2 linked regions of the Homo sapiens genome follow. The protein of the gene in region 2 purifies or fractionates together with the protein of the main gene of each other region. This does not show direct contact. Each region holds a gene or a part of one and is shown on either strand. Other genes may lie near its edges. The genes, in order: USP9X and SFI1.

Region 1 (3,819 bases), on a different chromosome or scaffold from region 2:
TAAACTTCAAAGTACATCTCTCATTACCTTAACAGTAAAAGGCAAATGTCCTAACATGGCACTCAAGGTTACCCCTTGTGATTTTAGCTTCACTCAAACTACCTTTCAGTTCCATCTCCCATAACCCCTCCCCTCCCAGTATCTCTAGTGTTCCTTGCACACTCTCCTACTAGTTCTTACTCTGAAAACACTATACTTTCACACTTGCATTGCTCCATTTCAAATAATGGTTCTCAATTTTGCCCCCAGGGCACAACTGGCAATGTCTGAAGACATATGAGTGGGGTAGGGGCTATACCACTGGCATCTTGTGGGTAGAAGCCAGGGCTGAGTAGGACAGCACCTCACAACAAAGACTTATCTGCCCCAAACTGTCAATAGGGTTAAAAAACCCTGCCTGATCTCAAGTTGATCCCTCTGACCGGAAGTCCCTGCTCTAATTAATAGGGCCATGAAAATAGGACATCTTTGAAGACCTCACCCAATGCCAAACAATGATTTCTCCATCTCTCCTACTACACTTTTCACACCTCCACTTAATACAGCTGTAATTGCACTGTATAACTGTCTGGTTCACCATACTTCAGAGCCTTGAAAGCAGAGAATCATCTTTATATACCCTCTGGTGCCTAAAATGGCACAGGTTGAGCATCCCTTATCTGAAAAATCTGGAATCCAAAATGCTCCAAAATCTGAACTTTTTTTTTTTTTTTTGAGACGGAGTCTCGCTCTGTCACCCAGGCTAGACGGAGTGCAGTACCGCGATCTGGGCTCACTGCAACCTCCACCTCCTGGGTTCAAGGGATTCTCCAGCCTCAGCCTCCTGAGTAGCTGGGATTACAGGTGCACACCACCATGCCTGGCTAATTTTCATATTTTTAGTAGAGACGGGGGTCTCACCATGTTGGCCAGGCTGGTCTCGAACTCCTGACCTCAAGTGATCTGCCCGCCTCAGCCTCCCAAAGTGCTGGGATTACAGGGGTGAGCCACCGCGCCTGGCCCCAAATTTCGGATTTTGAATTTTCACTCACCCGCAAGTAATATTCCAAATATTCCAAAATATGGGGAAAAAATTACAAAATCGGAAACACTTCTGATCCCAAATATTATGGATAAGGCGTACTAACTGAATCTATATTAAATCAATGAATTCAATTCAATCACAGTAAGGTAGCACTGACATGATTCTCCTTCCCATAATGCACCGAGGATAACAAAGCAATCCTCAGCTGACATTGATATGGCTCAGATAACGACATGCACTGACATCAGACAAGAAACACACCAGGCACGGTGGCTCACACCTGTAATCCCAGCACTCTGGGAGGATGAGGCAGGTGGATCACCTGAGGTCAGGAGTTCGAGACCAGCCTGGCCAACATGGTGAAACCCCATCTCTACTAAAAATACAAAATTAGCCGGGTATAGTGGCACCCACCTGTAATCCCAGCTACTCAGGAGGTTGAGGCTGGAGAATCACTTGAACCCAGGAGGCGGAGGTTGCAGTGAGCCGAGATCACGCCATTGTACTGTAGCCTGGGCAACAAGAGTGAAACTCCATTTCAAAAAAAAAGAAAAAAGAAATACACCTGTAGTCACTACAGTAGGTTCCTCCTCCAACACTCAGTCTGGCCCCACAATCCCTCTTGCCTCAGCTCAGCATGCTCCAAGTCAACTCTTAAGAATCCTGGATAATTAATTATATCTACAAAGGACACAGTAAACAGATAATATACACACTAATTAAATGAGTAAATGAGATTTTCTATATTTTCAAAAGTCTGGACAAATGCTGTACATAGCCAGTATCCTCCTTTCACATTCCCGAAAATGTGAGAGAAGTCAAAAATTTCAAAAACGACAGTCACCTTTTTAGGGGTTTTTCCCACTCACAGAGTACAGAAACTTTTATTTCTAATTATACCCTCACCTTTCAAATGTAAACTTCATCATACATTTGCCTCACTTAATTCCTATTTCATTCTAATTATTGCATTCACTATTTGCACAAAGCCAACTAACCTAACCAATGAGCACAACCTAATCCAGTAAGGTTTAAGATTCATATCCCTAACCAGTTCCCTCTGTCTCAAGGATATTTAAGACCTCCAGGTAGGCCAGGCATGATGGCTCATGCCTGTAATCCCAGCACTTTGGGAAGCCGAGGCAGGCGGATCACCTGAGGTCGGGAGTTCAAGACAGCCTGACCAACATGGAGAAACCCCAACTCTATTAAAAATACAAAATTAGCTGGGTGTGGTGGCGCATGCCTGTAATCCCAGCTACTCAGGAGGCCGAGGCAGGAGAATCACTTGAACCCAGGAGGCGGAGGTTGTGGTGAGCCGAGATCGCGCCATTTACTTTTTTGTTTTCTGCTCATTCTTATAAAAAGGCAAAATACATCTGAACTTGCACATAAACACAAGATACTGCCGTACAAATACAGCAAAGCTGCTGAAACCAAACTATTCTCAGGCAATACCACCTTGCAATAAAAAGAAATCCCTTTCATCAGCTAATGTACAGAAGTTTGAACCTGACTTAAGGAAAGGAGGTTCAGAGTTGTTAACATATAGTGTATCAAATAGGAGGTCAAGCACAGTGGCTCAGGCCTATAATCCCAGCAACACTGGGAGGCCAAAACAGGAGGATTGCTTGAGGCCAGGAGTTTGAGACCAGCCTGGGAAACACAGTCAAACCCCTGTTCTCTAACAAAAATTAACCAGGTGAGGTGATGTCGGCCTGTGGTCCTACTTACTCGGCAGGCTGAGGTGCGAGGATGCCTTGAACCCAGGAATTCCAGGCTACAATGAGCTATGATTGCGTCACCACAATCCAGCCTGAGTGACAGCGAGACCCCTCCTCTTAAAAAAAAAAATCACTGCTCTTAACTAGGGGCTGGCAAACTATGGTAACAGACCAATTCCAGCCTCCTGTTTTTGTACAGCTCACAAGGTAAGAATGGATTTCACACAGAACGTCTGCAATCAATTTGATGACAGGGAACACTGAACTTTACCCAATAAAGCAAAATACTGTATTACCTCCCCTCCACACACACACACCAAATTGTTTTTCTCATTAGACCTAAGTTATACATAACTGTATTTAATTATATTTTTTATTTCACCAATAAAAATTTTACCCAATGTCCTCAATTTTGCCTCTTAGCCCACAAAGTCCAAAGTATTTACTATGTGGCCCTTTACAGAAAAAGTTTACTGATCCCTGTGCTCTGAACTCCAGAGATGTTACCAAGCAGAGCAACCAAAACTTTGTACACTACACCTCGACCAGAGAGAAAACACTGTTAGGCAGAAATGGGTTCAATACTATACGGTAACTTCCATGCTCTCTGGGGTCCAAGTTAATAATGAGCGGCCTTACTTAGGAGTTCTAAGTAACCAGTTAACAGAAAAGACTAGAAATGAGAGATGTAACCAACAGCCTCAACTTATAACTCTCAATAGCCACCAAAGTCAGCAGGAATAAAATGGACATCAAGGATACTAACAGGAGGCTTCGCCACTCCCTTTTTCCTTTCCACCCAATTCACAGGCTCTGTAGAAGATGGGATCTAATATGCACGATCACCAGCTCAAACTCATCCCAAGGAAAACAATTCCTTTGATTATGGTTGACTAACATGGTGTTCAAAGCTCACATGATTAATAAGAATAAACTGTAGGGTGCCATAAAATGAAGATGAATCAATTCTGTACAAGAGGTTGGAGGTACTGCAAGTTAAATACTGCCCCAGATTTTCCCATTCAGGTAATCAAATGGTTATTATAAACAGTATTATTCTAGGTGCTCTGT
Region 2 (3,819 bases):
TGTCAGACAGGGTATTCACGCCACTTCTGCTGTCCCGCTTCCAAAATTCTGGTAGCTAGATGGTACCTCTCAGGCAGGAGACTGGAAAAGTCTTCTCAGAAAACAATAAAAACTAACACATCTCCAGATTCTGAGACCTGTGCCTTACTCTCCATCAATGAAAAAGCAGACTTGTCCCTAGATTACCCTAAAGTGAAGCCCCTGAACTCACAAGTCCTGCTCAGACACAAGGAGCTTCCAACTAATTTCTCAGTTACACCTTTTTTTTTTTTTTTTTTTGAGACAGAGTCTCGCTTTGTTGCCCAGGCTGCAGTGCAGTGGCTCAATCTCGGCTCACTGCAAACTCTGCCTCCTGGGTTCAAGCGATTCTTCTGTCTCAGCCTCCTGAGTACCATCACACCTGGCTAAGCTAGACTGGTCTTGAATTCCTGACCTCAAGTGATCTGCCCGCCTCAGCCTCCCAAAGTGCTGGGATTACAGGTGGGACCCACCACGCTCGGCCATAATCTCTCAGTTACACTTAAGTATAAACAGACAATTGAGAATCATAAAACATTTAGAAAAGACCTCCAACAAATAAAAAAGAGACCAAAATAAACCCAACAAAGCACTGATGAAGTGCTACCACCCATGATGAAATCTTGCTAAAAAATTGAACCTGGCCGGGCGCAGTGGCTCACGCCTGTAATCCCACGACTTCAGGAGGCCGAGGCAGGTGGATCACCTAAGGTCAGGAGTTCAAGACCAGCCTGGACAACATGGTGAAACCCCGTCTCTAATAAAAATACAAAAATTAGCCGGGCATGGTGGCAGGTGCCTGTAATCCCAGCTACTTGGGAGGCTGAGGCAGGAGAATCGCTTGAACCCAGGAGGTGGAGGCTGCAGGAGCCGAGATCACGCCATTACACTCCAGCCTGGGTGACAAGCGTGAAACTCCATCTCAAAAAAAAAAAAAAATTGAACCTGAATATCATCCAGCCTCATCTAGAACTAAGTACAGTAAGTCCTCACTTAATGTCATTGATAGGTTCTTGGAAACGGCAACTTTAAGCAAAATGATGTATAAGGAGACCAATTTTACCATAAAAGGTAGTTGATACAAACAAGATTTAAGTTCCTGTAACATATTTCTGGTCAGAAAACATCACCAAACTTCTAAATAAAGATCCAAACCCTTTTAATATTAAACACTGAAATAAATGTGAGCTATACATATATGTACAGAAGATTCATAAGAACAAGTAAGATAATTATTTACCCACTTATTCCAGTTCAGGGTCAAGGTTGGCTAGAGTGTATCCTGGCAGCTCAGGGCACAAGGGGGGATGCCACCCTGGACAGGAAGCCATTCATGGCATTGCACACTCACACACACACTCACTGACACTAGGATCATTTAGACATGTCAATGAAGCTAATGTGCTTATCGTGGGGACATGGGAGGAAATCAGAGCATCCGGCAAAAACCCACATAGGCATGAGGAATGTGCCAACTACAGACAGACAGTGGACCCATCCAGAATCAATTTTTTCTTATCAATGTTATGTTTTAACAAAATGTTGAGAGTACCACACAATCAAAAATGTATAGACTATAATCAAAATAACATCTATAGATAAGGTACTCTGCTACGCATTAGTGCTAAGCACTTTTCATGAACTACCTACTTTAATATAACTACCTCAGCAAGTGGTTATCAACTTCATTTTACAGCTGGAGGGCTCAAGGTTCCCAGCTAACAAGTGGCGGAACTGGGACTAGTACAGGCAGACCTCAGAGATACTGAGAGTTCAGCTGCAGACCACATAAATAAAGCCAGTCACATGAATTTTTTGATTTCCCAGTTCATATAAAAGTTATGTCAGCTGGGCACGGTGACTCACGCCTGTAATCCCAGCACTTTGGGAGGCCGAGATGGGCGGTCATGAGGTCAGGAGATCGAGACCATCCTGGCTAGCACAGTGAAACCCCGTCTCTACTAAAAATACAAAAAATTAGCCGGGCGTGGTGGCGGGCGCCTGTAGTCCCAGCTACTCGGGAGGCTGAGGGAGGAGAATGGCGTGAACCCAGGAGGCAGAACTTGCAGTGAGCCAAGATCACGCCACTGCACTCCAGCCTGGGCAACAGAGCTACACTCCGTCTCAAAAAAAAAAAAAAGTTATGTCTACACTTGTAGTTAAGTGTGCAATAGCATTGTCTAAAAAACTAATGTACATACCTTAATTTAAAAATATTTGGCCGGGCACAGTGGCTCACACCTGTAATCTCAGCACTTTGGGAGGCCAAGGTGGGTGGGTCACGGGGTCAGGAGTTCGAGACCAGCCTGGCCAATATGGTGAAACCCCGTTCTACTAAAAATACAAAAATTAGCTGGTGGTGGTGGTGGGCACCTGTAATCCCAGCTACTCAGGAGGCTGAGGCAGGAGAATTGCTTGAACCTGGGAGACGGAGGTTGTAGCAAGCCGAGATCACGCCATTGCATTCCAGCCTGGGTGACAGAGCAACACTCAGACTCAAAAAAAAAAACAAAAAACAAAAACAAAACAAACACACACACACAAAAACACCACTTTATTGGGCAGGCACAATGGCTCACGCCTGTAATCCCAGCACTTTGGGAGGCCCAGGCGGGAGAATCACCTGAGATCAGGAATTTGAGACCAGCCTGGCCAACATGGCAAAACCCTGTCTCTACTAAAAACACAAAATTAGCTGGGTGTAGTGGCAGGTGCCTGTAATTCCAGCTACTCAGGAGGCTGAGGCAGGAGAATCGCTTGAACCCAGGAGGCAGAGGTTGCAGTGAGCCAAGATCATGCCAATGCATTCCACCGTGGGTGATGAGATGAAACTGTCTCAAAAATAAAAATAAAAATAAATAAAAACACCTTATTGCTAAAAAATGCTAACAATTATCTGATTCTTCAGTGAGTTGTAATATTTTTGCCAGTAGAGGGTCTTGCCTCCATGTTAATAGCTGCTGACTGATCAGGGTAGTGATTGCTGAAGGTTGGAATGGCTATGGCAATTTATTTTTTCTTTTTTTTTTTTTTTTTTTGAGACAGAGTCTCACTCTGTGGTGCGATCTCAGCTCCCGGGTTCAAGCGATTCTCCTGCCTCAGCCTCCCAAATAGTGGGGATTACAGGTGCCCGCCACCACAACTGGCTTTTATATTCTTAGTAGAGTCAGGGTTTCACCATGTTGGCCAGGCTGGTCTTGAACTACTGACCTCAAGTGATCGCCCACCTCAGCCACCCAAAGTGCTAGGATTACAGGCATGAGCCTGTAATGCAGGATTATACTGCATCCGGCAACTGTGGCATTTTCAATGTTTTTTTTTTTTTTTTTTTAAGATGGAGTCTCACTCTGTCGCCCAGGCTGGAGCACAGTGGTTGCAATGCTCACTGCAACCTCCGCCTCCTGGGTTCAAGCGATTCTCCTGCCTCAGCCTCTGGAGTAGCTGGGACTACAGGCGCATACCACCGTGCCTGGTAATATTTGTATTTTTAGTAGAGACGGGGTTTCACCATGTTGGCCAGACTGGTCTCGAACTCCTGACCTCAGGTAATCCGCCCGCCTCAGCCTCCCAAAGTGCTATGACAATTTCTTAAAATAAGACAATAGTGATGTGTGTCACATCGATGGACTCTCTTCCTTTCATCAAAGATTTCTCTATAGCATGTAATGCTATTTAATAGCATTTTACCCACAGTAGAACATCTTTCAAATTGAAGTCAATCCTCTTAAATCCTACCACTGCTTTGTCAACTAAGTTTATGTAATACTCTAAATCCTTTGCTGTCATTTCAACAATGTTCAC

Evidence for each region.
Region 1: the proteins of SFI1 (region 2) and USP9X purify together in Homo sapiens (affinity purification with western blotting; one study listed by BioGRID). This does not show direct contact.

Annotation. Positions count from the first base shown.
Region 1 is NC_000023.11:41,091,939-41,095,757, reverse strand, and holds part of USP9X (ubiquitin carboxyl-terminal hydrolase 9X), read right to left. Parts: intron 1-3,819.
Region 2 is NC_000022.11:31,499,515-31,503,333, reverse strand, and holds part of SFI1 (protein SFI1 homolog), read right to left. Parts: intron 1-3,819. UniProt on the Homo sapiens protein: Plays a role in the dynamic structure of centrosome-associated contractile fibers via its interaction with CETN2.